Linked DNA regions of Homo sapiens: region 1 is linked to region 2. The links come from fine-mapping of genetic effects on gene expression. A gene starts in region 2. The other region holds a variant in brackets. All regions are shown on one strand. Distances are from middle to middle. Region 1 overlaps LOC107984003 (a long non-coding RNA gene). Region 2 holds the start of MBIP (MAP3K12 binding inhibitory protein 1).

Evidence for each region. PIP is the estimated chance that this variant, and not a neighbour inherited with it, causes the effect.
Region 1: its variant is fine-mapped to the expression of MBIP in whole blood (TOPMed, PIP above 0.99).

Annotation. Positions count from the first base shown.
Region 1 is chr14:36,278,939-36,287,287 of GRCh38, reverse strand. The region is part of intron 2 of LOC107984003 (a long non-coding RNA gene); the gene reads right to left. Among named protein-coding and RNA genes, the nearest start is that of MBIP, 38 kb to the left of the region's middle. RefSeq lists an enhancer at 7,152-7,800. The variant C/T (reference allele first, on the strand shown) is at 3,872.
Region 2 is chr14:36,316,359-36,324,707 of GRCh38, reverse strand. MBIP (MAP3K12 binding inhibitory protein 1) reads left to right here and starts at 4,071. Exons shown (of 9, transcript NM_016586.3): 1 at 4,071-4,248; 2 at 7,896-8,015. The coding sequence starts at 4,120. RefSeq lists enhancers at 3,673-3,722, 4,123-4,382.

The sequences.
Region 1 (8,349 bases), 37 kb after region 2:
TAGGTTAATATAATTGATTCCCATTCAAAGCTAGCCATGTGCCATGAACTGCAGTAAAGAAGTATGTCTTCCAAAAAACATACCATACACATAGTTGACAAAAGAGAGAATTCCTATGGGGGGAAATAACAGTTGCCTTAAAAAAATCTAAAACATTTTGATTGAATGGCCCAATTATGTCTCTTCTTTCATACCAGCCAAACACAGGTAATTATTATATTTAAAATTAATAAACTTTTTTCTGCAGCAGAAAGGCCATCTGTTGAACTCTGTCATTCAGTCAAAGCTATAGAAAATGTAACCACCTTGTCTTCATTTATTCATTGAACTTATTGTCATTGTTTAGCCGTCATGCATGAAGCACTGTGTCATACGATGGGGTGGGAAGAGTGTGAGAGGGACCCTTGAGAGTGAAGAACGGTCCAGATCTGAAAAGCCTTGCAAATCACTGAATCACTGGCTTAAGGAGCCGGTGGGAAGAGCAGGTGGATGGCCCGATCAGAGTGGCACGTTAGAAAAATCACTCTGGCTTCTGGCTACAGTGTGCAGAATGGATCACTATGCTCGGGTACATTACATTTGGTTAATAAGTTATTTTTGTAAAGAGGGTCTTAACCTCTAGGCCTCAAAGCAAAAATTTCAGAAAAGGGCATTGAAGAAGCCACAAACCCATTTTTAAATAACTTATTATGGCCTGTTTAAATATAGTTTTTAAGGTAATTATCTGTATAGCAAACATCTGCAATTTTATTCAATTCTGTGAATTTTTACTAATAGATAAGAGGCAAAAATGGAGAAGAAGGAAGAAAGAACTGGCAGGAACTAACAATTTTGAGTAGTGTATGAGGACTTCTCATGCATTATCTCATTTAATCCTTACAATAAGCAAAGAGCTTACTGTATTATTATCTCTATTTGCAGACAGGAATTTGAGACTCAGAAAGGTGAGAAGTCCTCTGTAAGAGACAGGGCTGGGTAGCCTGCCCTCATCCTCTCCAAAGCCCGAGTTCTTGCCTCTGTAACAAATGGCAGATACATATACAGAACAGCTAAGTTAGGCAGCAGATGAGTAGGAGAAAGGCTGAGATAACCTTGAGTAAAAACAGAATAAAGGGGAAAATGTATAGGCCAAAGGGGAAAATTAATCGGCAAAATAAAAGCATGAGGAATTACCCTCTTGAAAAGAGCAAAAAGGCAACTGGCTTCTTGAATGAAGAGATATAGAGATGATCAACTTTGAATTTTTCAGCACATTACAAGTACAACCGTAACAGAATTGCCATTGAACTGCAGAATTCAAGAGATGGTCTTCTTGCAGAGGTACTAATATTAAAGATGAACTGCTACAGAAAAGAAGCCTACTTACTAACTTACTTTACACAACCCCTCTCACATGCCCTGGTATTTGACATTTGCGCGTGAGGCTTGATCAGCATCATATCCTCTGAAAGCCAGCTGCCTTTAGTAGATATGGCTGCCTGGCAGGATAACACTCCTTGCTATAGGGAACAGAAGGTATCCCGTCCCCAAAAGAAACCTTCACTCAGGTTTATGCCCCCAAACTCTTTGGAGGGAGATACCATCACCCTGACTGCATGCCCTTTCTAAGACACAGGCTAATCCAGGGTTAGTTGGGCAGACAATGGTCACCCGTATATTGAGATGTGAAGAGCATGGGAACTGTCTCCTTTAAAGCAGCCTCCCTCCTGCCCAGTAGGGATCTTGAATTAATATGTGTGGTTGAGTCTTTACCCCACTCACTTCATTCATTTTGGGTACTCCCCTACCAAAAACTCCAGGGAATGGAGCACTGAACTGCTGAGCTGAGATGGGGAGAGTGTGGTGGGGAAGGCGCTGGCCCAGGGTTATCAGCCTCAACAAGGCCAGCTAGGCAGGAAGCAAGTAAATCTATTTAAGTAAAGAGGACAGAGGCTGCATATCCAACATACCACAGAGTGTTGTGTACATAGAGTGTACAATCGATGTTTCTTATATAATTGTTGAGGTGTTATGAGAAGTAGGGATTAGGTGTCAGTCCCCAAACTACTGCTTATTTGACATGTTTTTCACTAGTTGTATCTGAACAGGCAAAAAAATTGCTTAGTTGCGCAATGTGGTGATGAAGGTAATATATGCCCTTCCCATGGGATATGCTATGTGCTGTGTGTGAGCTTTTGTCTTCCAAGTATGACGGGATGTTTATGCCTCTCTACTTATTATTAGCAAGGTACCAAAGAAAAAGGTGGAAGAGAAGGAAGAGAGAGGCAAGACAAAAACATACCAATACTCTTAGCTCCTTCCTGGCCACTAAGGCTTGTGTACAACTTTGTCCCAGAGGCAGTGTTTATTGAAGAATAAATTTTTGCTGAGAGACTTAAAATCTAACTGGCATTAGCTACCTAGAGATGGAAGGGGGAAGTCTTTGAAAATGTTGATTTAATAAACTAGCCAGCAGCCAGTACACCAGATGAGAACAGAAGGAGGGGAGAGAAACATTCCCTCTGCCAGAGCATTTTGCAGATAATTAAAGTAGAGACTTTGACTCACAGCAGGGCAATTTTAGCATACCTGACGCAGGGCTTGACTCAAGCTCCCTCAGTGTCCCTTCCAGTGCAGTTATGCTATTAGCTTTCATAATATTCCACATAAGGGAAGACACGTTTCTTCAAGCTATTCCATTTTTCAATTATTAAAGAGCTTTGAGTTTAAAAGTTCACCAAAAAACCCATCATGCCCCATCTTGGACATTACCCTTGTCTAATGGGTAGTAACAAGATCACTCTTTCAGACACTCAGTCCACATTACTTAAACATTCATCTGCTCCATTTCACACTTGGAATGGGCTGTGCAATAAACGTATTTGATCTTTTCTTTATTGTCTGTTTCAGGAATGTATGCAGGGTTTTCTTCTTTGCTATATAGGAGCAGATTTCTCCTTTGCAGTGTAGGAAGTGATTCACCTCTAGGAGGCTAATTTTTTATAGTTGAGTGCAGGATCTTAATAAATAAACCAAAAAGTGAAGTGCTATTTTGAACAGCCCTCACACCAGCAGGAAGAATCAGTGAATGAGGAACCATGGAAGACTGTTCACTACATACCCATTTACTCCAAAATATTATTTGGATCAGCATTGGATATTTTTAATAAATTATAAGTGATTCTTCTTTCTGTATTAATTAAGAATTTACACTACTCTTCAAGTGTTTTAACTCCCCCAGTGCCAAGCTTAAGTCCTCTGGATTAATCCTGATGCATGAAGAGCTTTGAAAACATAACAATGGTAAGCAACAACCCTGAGTGATTAAGAAATCAAGATGTGTGCAGGTGCTGGTAAAACACACACACGCACACACATACACACACACACACAAATACGGCAAATGAAAATTAGAAAAATTGCCCAGACATATTGTCAGAACAAACTAAAAATTTAAGGCTTGGAATATGCTAGATTTACATTACATCTCACTTCAGAAGAAAGTGTTAGAGGAAGAAGGCCAGGAAGACTATGAAAAACCAAAGCTCTTAGCAGAGGGCCTACCACAGAGGAAGTACTCAAGAAAAATGAGCATGAAACACAGAAAAATAAGGACAAAAGATAGAGATGAAAAGATAGCAATGAAAAGAAAATAACTTTTCTGTGGTTATTTTCTACAGTAGATTTACAGCACAAAAGGGGGACTCAAAGAATCTTTTGTCCAAGCTGGTGACATCTGATGAGGTATCCTAGATATGGCTATCAATGTACGCAGTCTATTTCAGTTTAACCAGTCAAGGATTAAAATCATTCTTCATATGCCAACATAATATTCTTATTCTCTTTCTGTAATACAAGACTGTTTCTCCATGCATCATCTCAGTTTGGAGAA[C/T]GGGTAGCAGAAAAATGGCTTCCTCCAAAGCAATTCTTTTCTATTTTGTTTTCTCCAAAGCAACTCTGAGAGGATGGCTACTGGGATTTTCAGCCCAGATCCTGTAAACCAGAGGCTTCCTTAGCAAGGAAGGAGACAACCAACACATAGATACTAAAGTATCTCCACTTAACAGAAACAGAGAACCAGGACTGGAAATTCCTCCCTCAGGGCTTCCCAGCAATGATCTCCCTAACAGTCTCATGGTTAAAACAGTAATCTCATTAAGTCATACTTTTATGGAATAAGAACATTCCCTAAAAAGCTACATGCTTCTGATTTTGCTTACCTTTTTCACAACATGCACATTCTCTTCACTGATAAATTTTTCATGGCAATAATACATAATTTGATAAGACTTTCTTGACAAACGCCCAGTGGAAATTTTAAACAGTGTTTCCTTTGGTCTCTCTCAGGGTAAGCCCCTGTCCACAGGTTCAGTTCGTTCTAAGAAATCATCTTAAAACTAAATATGTACACACTTCCTTCCTGACAGTCAATGTTCACTTTTACCTAAGCGTAACTGAGCAACCGGAGTTTTCAGGTGGGTTACAGAGTGGAAAACAAATACAAGCTAATTTCATGGAATAATCTCTCTAGGAAGAAACAAACCATATCAAAACAATCCCTTGTGTAGATCTTCAATTAAACTGTACTATATCATGGACAAAACACTCATCATAACTAGGAATAGATAGGTATTGTTTCAAACATATTATGTACAAATCATCTAATTTTTCAAGGTTAATGAGTGTAATTTATCCATCTTTGGTTACTGAAGGGGTTACATAGGATGAACAAAACTTAAGAGTTCATCCATTTCATTTCTGTTGATTTGCCTCTATTTGTTTGGCTTTTATGTCCATGTAATTGATTTGTATAAATCTGTCCAAAGCAGATGGGCAACTGCTCATGACACTTGCAAACCATTTAGATTATTATTGTACTGATGTTTATTCAAGGCCAAATGGGGAAAATATAAAAGGTGTGATGTTCAACTTAGCATAACAATATCATGAAAAATTTATTTGGTCTCAGCAGCAAAATAGATACTCTCTACCAATCAGTTTCATAAGTGCAGGTGAATCGCTTCTGTCTATGTGGCTGGACTAGCTACCCAAATTAATTATGGCACCATTTTCCAGTTTTACAACATAATGCAAACTCTCCAAGAGCATAATAGAAAGCATAATAGAAAGACAGTCATCTCCAATGCTACTAGATGTTAACATTTACATTGAAGACTTGTATATCTCTCCTCACGCTTTTGAATCAGAGGATTAAAAAAAATCATCTGCTAAAAATAAGTAAATAGATAGATACACATTTGAGAACCCAGAGAGAGCCATCATCTACTCAAATAGCACACTGATAGCATTGATTCTGTTTTTGTTCTTTTTTAAGGAATAGATTGTGATTATAATTTGCTACACAAAATTATATTTTGTTCTGTGTTTAGATTTGACACTTGCATAGATCTAAACAAATTTAAGTGCCATTGCTTAATAGACAAATAGAGATACATTGTTTTCTTTATGCCACCAGAAGCTAATTAAAACTGTTTCCCTAAAATCCTGATCAGTTAAAATGCTTTGGAAGCACTGGAAAATTATTTTAATTTTTTTCCCCCAAGTGCTAATGATCAACTCAGCCTATGACACAGACCAGAGGTGTCACAAAGACACTTAAGATGTGTGCCCAAGTAAGTCCATCTTGGAAGTGGGTATGCCTAAGTGAGAGGAAAAGCAAATGACCTCTAATATTTGACCTCACTGTGGTTGGATCTGTTAGGGTCTCACCAGTACTATCTTTTTTCCTCTAGGCGCAAGAGAAGACTACACTTCCCAGATGCCCTTGCAGTTTGAGAGGAACCATGTAACTGAGTTCTGGCCAATGGAATGTGTGTGGAAGTGAATAGCATGGTGTACGCTATTTCCTGACCTGGCCATTACCCTCCTGGTCTCTTTCTTACTAGAGTTTCTTTGAGGCCAATCCAAATTTACATGAAGAAACTTAGATTTACTTTAAAAATCAGATAGAATTTTAGGTGATTAGGCTGAAACTCTCTAAACAAAAAGGGTTTAAAATCCTTGAAGAATGAAAGTTGCCTGGGCCAGTCTAATACAAGCTATGAGCATCACAATAAACTGTTTTTTAAAGACTCTATGTCTTGGAAACTGAAAGTTCCACTTATAAAACACACATTACTGAATATCAAGGCTTAAGACACAGTCACGTAAAAAGGTTTTTAAAAAATCTGCCACATATAATGCAATTTTACTTTTGATTATTGTGAAGTCAGAATTCCAAATGCCTCAGATTCACCATTCTGAACATCAGTATTCTTTGAACAGTATTTCTGATGCAGAAGGTAGAGGTGACAGCTGAATTTAGAGCAGCCCATGCCATTCCCTAAATTGCATTGTTAATGAAACCCTTAAATGTAAATTTGTATTGCTTCCCTCTTTCTATGACGCCACCCAGACAAAACCACTTCAGTTATTTTAACTTTCCTACTTATTTATTGCAGATGAACAGGAATTTATTTTATATACATTACTTCAAAGTATTCTTATCATAAAATCTGTATTTACACCCTTCTCACAAAGACCAATTAATAGACTCTTTCCATAAGCAAAGGACTATTTAACTTACAGAAATATAAATGATGCCATGCTGTACATACTGATATTTTTAAAACCTCAATTTAAAAGGTGACAGATTTTACAATGATGGATAGGGCATTTAACAACTAACTCTAAAGTATACTTTAAGTCCCACATTTAAGTACTGCATAAAGGTTACTTTCTTTGTTTCCTTCTTTTATTCATCTATTTATAAATTCAAGGTCTTTGAAATGTTTTTCCTCTTATATTTAATGTAGCCTGATCTTTGCTTAGAAAAATACATTGCTACATTTATCAATTTTCTGATAGCTCCATAAACAACGTTAGCTTATAAAATGCTAGTACTGTAATATAATGGTAACACTACAAAAAGTTATATATTTTTTAAACCTTTTCCCCTTAAACGAATAATTATTGCTTAAAGAATAGTTTCTTCCAAAGGTGGCATTTGAATGGTATGGTTCATAATGCCACATGATAACCTCAGAGAGTGAATGAGCTTGTCACTAAGGCATCTAATCCTCTAGGCAAAAAATAAGAAAATGTGTTAGGACATAATTAAATACTTACTTCTGGGGAAAATATAGGAAAAGAAACTTCATCTTTTGTCAAACACACTTTTGTTAACCCAGACTTTGCCGGATTTGCAGCATGTCAAAACTGGTTCGTTCCTTAGCCATTTAAGAAGCAAGAATGCACACTCATTGTTCATGACTAGTTTCCACTCGCCTGTGACAAAACAGCTAGTTGGAGAGTCAGCCTCGGTCAGTGTCTATTTAGGGCAAAATGTCAAAAAAGAATGTCCTGCATTTGGGCTCAACAATAATGAACATGGCTAAATCTGAAAATTAACAAAAGAAAGTGAACAGCTTTTTAAATTCTGAGAACATTAGATTCTGGTGTCCTTTTTGTTCCGATTGTTGTGGCTTAACACTCTGAAAGGACCACCTGTTGGGCAGCCATTTTGTGATTGTATTGAATGCAGTGATTGCATAAAAGAACACTTTCCAAAATAACCTGGCATTATTATTCACTTATTTTGTAGTAAATCTGCATTCAAAACCTGCATTAAAATATAAGGCTTTCCTCCTAAGTGAAATTTAAAGCTATAAGTTTAATGGAAATGCATACTCAACTGCAAATGCATGATTTTATGGTCAAACGCATTATACACAAAAATGAGTTCAAGTAAACCTTTGATATGGCAATTAGAGAGTATGTTGAATAAAGTGAAACAGTTAAAAGTGGTGCATGGCAGACAGGGAATCCCAGAGGAAATGACACAAAACTGATAGCATGTAATTATTAGACTGACACAGAGACATAATGTAGTTGGAGAAAATTACTGTTGTCTATTAAAAGAATGTGATATCCTCAGCAATCCTGAAAGCATATTTTACTGGTATAATACCTCCGCTTTCATGAATAAAGGAAAAACCATGTCCCAAATTCGCAGGCTTTGTAATTCATTTATGCTAAAAATCTCTCCTAGAACACAGCGTAAACAAAAACATTATTGTTTAAGTCCAACTGGTGGAAAATGCTAGTTAATGCTGCAAGTGACAACTAAGAAAATAAAAGAGAATACTCAAAAGAGAAACTGTTCCTAAGATAAAAAGATCATTTGTTATAACTATCCAATGAATGTTTTAAGAGCATGCGTTTTGACATTGAAAATGATACTTGTATCAAAAATCATCTTTGGTGCATGAACACATTTTGGATGCTTGATTTGATTTTCAGTTTTGTGGCTACTTTAGGATAATGTGGAGAATAATAATTCTCTATTCCATGATTTTTATTATTACATGA
Region 2 (8,349 bases):
CAGATAACATGTATGGCTTCTGTTTCCTGATTAAACCTCAACTGATACAGAAATTGGTATGAGATTTATTTATACCAGTAAGTAAATCTTCAAAAATGGGAGTTTGAGATTGGTTTAGTTATGTCCTTGGGCTTGACTGCACTGCTAAACTCCTTGCTAATAGGAAGTAATGTTGTGAGCCATTGCATGAAATGGCAATACAATTTGCCAATTATTATCCCAATTTACTTGATCATGAACTGTTTTGCTAAAATTAGCACATTATAGACTAGCATTCCATAAAATACACTTTAGGAAATGCTTGCTTAGCCATACTTCTCTATTTAATGTATCCTCCCTAAACATATTAAGCATGTTCAAGTTGCTGTTCATGTTTTCTATAAATTCCTTGAGAATTCTTATTTATCAATTCATATTTTGATATCAAATTCATATTTTTATCAATATCAATTCAGATTTTACTTTAAGTGTTTATAGCTTTTCCTGATTCTGGACCCAACCCCCTCCCCAAAGGAACTAATTGGCTGCATTACTTTATACATACCTCTAATATGGCCATTGTCACATTATATGAAGTTGTTTGTTTATATATCTACCTATCCCACTAGAACGGGAGCTCTTTGAGGAACAGTCCTTGTCTGATTCATCTTTGTAGCTCAATGTCAATTAGAGTGCCTGGTATATAGTAGGTACAATTAATTTGTATGTGTAAAATTATTGAGAATGGTTATGAAGGCTAGCTATATTTACTCCCTTAAGAAAACTTAGAACACTTTGAATTTGCTGCCACAAAAGAGAATAAACAGACTTGTTTCGTTATTTAAAATAAATTGTTTATAGCAGTCTATATGTTACAATTTTCCTTCAACAATAGGCACTTGTTTACTTTTTTCCATTTTATAAATCTGTTCACTTATGAAGGCAAATAAATTCAGCTCAACAGGCATATACTGAGCAATTAACTCTGTGCCAGAAACTATGCTAAGCCTTATGTACACCAACATATAAATGCTTATAGTTCAATAAGGAGACAGATATAGTCAAATAAATTCAAGTATCACTGTGATAACTACAATAATAGAAGTATATACAAGTTGTAGGAGTAGTTTAGCAGAGGAGAAAATAAGCTCTTTATGAGGGGGGATTCCCCAAAGATTTTCTAACTGGAGTTTGAAAATGGAAAAGGAGTTTCTCAAGCAGACAACAGGCACTGGGTAAAAATCAAAGCATGGAGGCAAGAAATAGTAAAGTGTTGAAGACATAAAAGCAGTTTCAGAAGCACTAAGCACCAGATGGTTTGTGGCAGAAAATGAGGCTGGAAATTTAGGCAAAGGCCACATCATAAGAGCCTTCATGTCATTCTAAAGAACTTGGACTTATGCAGCAGGTGATGGGGAGACAGGGACGACAAATACCATTTATTTTACTTTTTCTGCATTGAAATAAAATCTGTATTATCATATATGCAACAAACATCAGTTGAGCCCTTCTAATACCTCAGGTATTTTGCTGGGAACTGGGTTATTCAATAGAGTTATGCCATTAAAGCTCACCATAAAAGACATTTTTGTTGATAAGGTAAATAGCCTAGATTTCATTTATAGTCTCTATCCTCCCAATTGATTCTTGGCATAAGCCTGCTGGACAGTATTTCTAACTCTGTTGCTAACGCGAACACCAACACTTTGAATCATTTCTGCCAGGCAGCAGATTTTTCAGCAACCCACTTTATAAACTGTAATTAGTTTTCCATAAAGAGCAAATTATTCCCTTTATTCCCTTTCTAAATTTCATAGCGCATATTATACTTTTGTTATACATACATACACACATACAATATCTACAAATTTCTATTTTGAGTTGGCCCAAAGGAATCCAAATCTTTTCAGGCTACAAACTCTTCTATTTAAAATAGAATTTTCTATTATAAAATAAGAAAATGAGAAAAATTTCCAAAATGAAGGTAATAGGCATCAAGAAGAGTAAGAAAGGTCCTTAGAAAGAAGAAAGAATGCACAAAAGAGTTAACAAATTTTAAGTACTACTGGTTGAGTATCCCTTATCTGAACTACTTGGGACCAGAAGTGTCTCAGATTTCGGATTTTTTTTAGATTTTGGAATATTTGCATATATATAATAAGCTATCTTGGGGATGGGACCCAAATCTAAACACAAAATTCATTTATGTTTCATGTATACTTTATACACATAACTTGAAGGTAATTTTATATAATGTTTTAAATAATTCTGTGCATGAAACAAAGTTTTGACTACATTTTAACTGTGACCTGTTATGTCGGATCAGGTGTGAAATTTTCCACTTGTGGTACTGGCACTCAAAAAGTTTCAAATTTTGGATCATTTTGGATTTTGAATTTTCAGATTAGGAATGCTCAACCTGTACCTAAGTAAAGAATACTAAGATACAAGTGCAGGTCTGGATATCAAATCACAGAATTACATGGAGAAGCAATACACAGATCAAATGGCCATCAGTTAATTCTGTATTAGAGGCTCAAAAGAACAAGTAAAACTTGAAAATTCAAAATCAATGATGGCAAAGAAAGGAATAGCAGCACCTTGTTAAAGACAACATTTTTTAAATATACAAAGCATATTCCCAAATGTGTTGCATATCAGTGTTCTCCATATTTGAAAAAATATGAAACACCTCAATGAAAACAAATGATCTGAAACTGATTGCTAATTTGGTACAAAACAAAAACTTACAGTTACCCCATTACCATGCTTGAATAAGAAGGTTGCTCAATTTGAGACTGGACATTGTGAAGTATTTTTCTGCCTGTAGAAATAGGCTGGAATGTCAGTTGTATATCTTGCTGCCAACAAGGGAACAGAAAAGATTTCCCAAGATTCTGTCAAGCCTGGTGATCCCATTTGTCTTTGGAAATGAAAGCCTAATTAAGAGACTCCCTAGGGACAGGTCAAAGGAGTTTTTATCCCCATCGTCCTTATCTTAGTTCCTTGATGCATTAGTCCTTCCCTTTAATTTAGTCTACCCTAAAACTAAAGAATACACATTGTGCAAGTTTCCACCTTTGCTTTCTCTACTGTAAATGCATTAGACTATTAACAGAATTACGAGTTTTAAATCCCACCTTCCTTATCTCTAAGCTGATGTTGATTTCTTAAAGTGTTTTTGAATAAAGCTTAACACTAAAAATTATTGTAATACTTTAATTGGATAACACTTTTTAAAAATATCGGAGTCTGACTAAAAGATTACAAAACCCCACAAACATCGTTATAATAAAGCTATTATGATAAATAATACTTTGTAAAATTTGAATTCGGTTTTATGTCCTAATTTCAAAGATTGTGGTTGCATGATATTATTTATCCAGGTTAAATTCCTGTTGGAATTATATTGACAGTGTTTCATTTCTTTGAAACAATTTTAGGGTTAAGCGTCTCTACAGTTAAAACAGAGAATATCAACTGTAGTCCCAGTTACTCAGGAGGCTGAGGCAGGAGAACCGCTTGAACCTGGGAGGCGGAGGTTGCAGTGAGCCGAGGTAGTGCCACTGCACTCCAGTCTGGGCGACAGAGTGAGACTCTGTCTCCAAAACAACAACAACAAACTTGAAGAGATGAAAATGTTCTATCCAATCATGATAATTCCGTGTGAGTTTTCCAATGTTTAGAAACACGTGTGGGCACCACTCCATCCCTGACCAGCAAGCTTCCTCCAGACCCACTCCACACCGCCATGTTAAAATGTCAACTTTTACTTTTTGGACTCAAACTACAAAATTTAACTATGTCTCCTCTTACCAAGATTCACAATGAACACCTAGGAGTCAAGGTAGGCTTCATAACGCTAAAGAGACCACGACTCTAATGACCACCCCAAACACAGCATTCCAGCCTAGCTGTGGTCTGCAATTACCCACTTCAGAGCCTCGGCGCAATGTCACAGCTGCAACTGATTGGTGTAACGTGCTTGTCATTCACATAGAGAGGGTGGGGCCTCAAAGCCCGATCTAAACCAGACTCCGTGTCTTACGTCATCGCCAAGCGACTAAAGCTGGAAGGGAGGGGGCGGGGTTGTGAGCAAATCTTGGTGGTGGTGGTGGTGGGGCGGCCTGAGAAGATATCATGGCTGCTGCCACGGAGCTTAATCGCCCGAGCAGCGGTGACAGGAACCTGGAGCGAAGATGCAGACCCAACCTCTCCCGAGAGGTGCTCTACGAAATCTTTCGCTCCCTACACACCCTGGTTGGACAGGTGAGAGGTGGCCTGAGGGACTGGGAATATGGAAACCATCCGGTCCCTCCTCGCCATTCTTTTTCTCTAGCAGAGGCCGGGGGCAGCTAGGCCTGCAGAGGTGTGGGATGCGGTCCCGAAGCCGAGGTGTGGAAGGAGCCCGGGCCCAGCCTCCTCGGTCGGAGTGAGGAGGACGGCGGTACCGGTTGCAGAGTCGTTTACCTTGCAGCTGTCCTCCCCAAGAGTGGGTGAGGTTGGCCTAAGTGAAAACCCGGCTCCGAGAGAGGCAGGCTTGGAGAGAATGAATGTGGAAAAGCTTCACTGCGAGTTTAGGAGGCGCTTAGCGTTCAGGGTCCTTTTTCCTCCAACTTACTCTTTATGGGAATTGGTTGGTCAGTAGGCCTGAGATTTATAGAAAAGCGCGCGCTTATTAGCTTTTTTTGGTGGGGGAGGGAGTAATTTGTTCTTATGAGTTACTTGGTTTTGTTTATTTCTTTTTTCCTTCGGGCTGTTTTGCGCATCTATAATCCTTTCAAATGGGGAGAAAAGTAAAAGGAATTCATTTAAAATACTTCTAGCGTAAAATGCTGTTGGCGTTAGAACTGTCGTTATTTAACTATTAACTAGTTTAACTGGCTGATAAATCGCTTTTGCAGAAATGTCATAGTAAAATTGGTTTTAAATTGAAATGGGCTTCTTCGATCAAGTCACTGTTTCGTTTCATGGTGTAAAATTCAAGTTTTAAATGAGAAACAATTTAAAAGTATGCTTGTTTACCTGCCTTTTAAAAGGAAATATTTTCTATCTTACATAGACCATTTTCTAGCCGTAAAAGTTTGTTTTGGGGCTGGTACTAGCGCAAGTGGACAAAGCAGGCATTTGTGTCAAAGATAATGGTAAATTCCTATGAAAATAGAACATTTGTCTGATTTGTGAAAATTATTTTTAAAGCCTTGAGTAGATGGAGAATCAGTCTTTTAAGAAGTTACTATTTTTAAAAATCGTAGTATGTTGTGTCTTACAAAGAACATTACTGTAAGTTAAACGGTTTTATGAAATGACGCAGTTATTAATGGAGTCTGCTTAAAGATATAACTTTTAAATTCAGTTGTTTGCCAAGTACTTACCAAAAACATTTTTTAAAGACTTGGGGTGTTTTGTTATTAACATTCCATTCTTAAGACCCAAGACGTTTAAATGGTTTAAAAGTTAGAGAACTTTTTATGGCGACGTTGGAACTTAAGTTTATTTATTTTATAATGTCAAGATGAAAAAAGTTTATTCTCACCTGTTAACAGAAGATGGAATATTTTTAAAAAATACTGAGCAATGATTTAAACATTTCTTTTGAAATATTTTGCATACTGAATTTTTCAAACTCATTAGAAAATTTTAAACATTCAAGTACTGTACAAGTAAAGAAGTGATTACAATTTACTTATGTCACCTGTCAAAAATGTTCACAGTAAATATTTGGTTACTTTACCATGACACAGTGAAGGGACCTCCTATACAAGTGTCAAAAATATGATTGTTTCATCAATTAAATACAAACTGTTTTCATAATACTCTATATTTTGAGAAGTGTTAAGAGTGAAAATTAGAGTTCCATACTTATAAAATTGCCCCCAGAGAAATCAGTATTTTCTTTTGCAACCACTTTAAAGGATATTTAGAATGTATGTTGTAACATGCCTAACTTCATCCTGTGTCATCCCTAAGTATCGTTGTATTATTAGATCTCCTCAGTAGGAAACATAAAACTGAATGTTAAAAATAATTTTTTACTTAAGATCACAAAATTTACTAATTTTAACCTTTTTGCTTGCCTCTGGATGGTCCATCTTACCAAGCTAAACAATTATTTATTTTTAGCTTGGATTTTTGTATTAATTTAGTAAAGTTTTTACTGAAAATATATATTTAAATAGTCTATATTAATAGCAGACTAATAGAGATTTTCGAGTGAGTGGTTTACTCTTCCAAGTTCTGTAGGGCAAAATGCATAGAGTTCATATTACTAATAATGAATTTGTTGAATGAATAGTTAGATGTATTAGGACAGTTTTAAAATTAATTTGTGACATTATGTGGTTTTCTTAAAAGACTAATTATTCTTAATTGCACTTGAAGCTTATGTAATTCTGCTGAATTGAAATGAGAATATGAACCAAACATTAAGACTTATTTTTCTATAAGTTATTTTCTCTAGAAAATGTGATACTTTGCTTTGGTTGAGGATTTGCCTGCTTTATCCCCAAGCTGTATTCTTAAGTTTTCTATAATCAACTATAGATCTCCTTGAAGACTATGAAAGTACATTAATGGGTTACTTCCATACATAATACAGGTTGTTGTCTAACAAAATCTTTATAGGAATTAAAGTAATATAAATTAATGCATTAACTTTAATGTACAATCTTAATATATTCTAATCTTTGCCAGTGCAGCCTACATGAAATTTCATATCTCTTTATACTTGTCTAATATGGACTTTTAAATGCTTCCATTCTCATCTTCAAAGGGCAGTAAATTTCTGTCACATAGTATTTATTCAATATATTATCTTTTTATTGGTAACCTTATATCTTTTTGATCTTTGTACAGTGATTCATCTTTTTTATTATAATTGTGACTCATAAAATCTGTATTTGAACTCACGTAACACCTTTATTTTGTAGAAAAGATGACTCATTTTGAATAAATTATGTTAACTTGATTCTACTATGAAGTATAGTCTTATACTATGCTGTAAACACATGTCCCTAGAAAAGTTTTTGATGGTTCACTTTTATTCATTCAAAAGACTGCAGATGGGCGCTCTCATTGTAAAATTTTCACTCATTTTGATAATAATCTTATATTCAGGTTCTTGGTAGTTTTCTGGATATGATTTTATTCTATTAGATCACCAACTGATAGAAATTTCCATATAATGAGCTGTCACATCTTAGCATTTACAAAAGATCTGGACATTTCATCCAGTCTGACAACTTATTTCACTGTGGTGGAGAAGTCTTTGTTTTTCAGCTTCAGACTTCCATTGCTAAATAATAGTTTTTTATTTGAAATAAACATGTTGCCATTTATCCCTACACTTTATATGTATGAATAATCTTGACTTTTAAATTAGTTTAAAAATCGGTTAAAAGTTAAAAAACTAAAAATGTGATTTGGAGGACATCAGAATAATGATATATTTCTGATATGTATTTGTGTACATACTTAAAGAGAAAGATGCATGTTAAAACTTTCACAAAACACTTGTACTTCCTCTGTTTAAGGCTCTGAGCTAGAAGTAGTAGGATTCTGAATAGGGCAAGCCTATATTGGACTCCATCCAAAGGTTTGTATATATTGAAGTATCAAAAGAGCCTTCATCTTTTCATCTTTCATGAATGGTTTTACCTCTAAAATGGTCCCATTACACAGACCTAAGAATAGAATTTGAACGACATGTCATTTTGTTTTTGTTTTTTTATGAAAATCTGTAGCTTTCTTGGCCTTTTGAAATGGTAACTGGGTAGAGCATTTCAGTGTATTATTAAAAACTTGATAACTTAGAGCAAAATAGACCCGTTACTCTAGAAATCTTATTTTTGTGACAATTCCATATGTAGAGCTTAATCGTGTAATTTTTGTGATGTTGCTGGTTTGCCCCTTTGAAGCTTGACCTCAGAGATGATGTGGTGAAAATTACAATCGATTGGAACAAGCTCCAGAGCCTCTCGGCATTCCAGCCTGCATTGCTCTTTAGTGCACTTGAACAACACATTTTATATTTACAGGTAAATTTCTTGTTAGAAATGATAACCCGATATTGAAAATAGAAATTGATTGTGGTTAAGTTAGTTGGAGTATTTGACAGTTCTAAACACTATATTAATAGTGTTGCTAATAAAACGTTATTTACATCCGGATTTAATCTAAATCTGTTAATTTCAGTAGTGATCAGGACAGTTAAGGGAATATAGCCCAAAAGACCAATGTGGGTATGAGTGAATGAATGCAATTCTATTCAATTCTAGACCTGCACTGAAAATTCAATACAGTTCCATCTATGGTGGGTTATAATTAAGCAATAAGACACGGCAGGTGTGTGTCATGCTATGATAATGATTC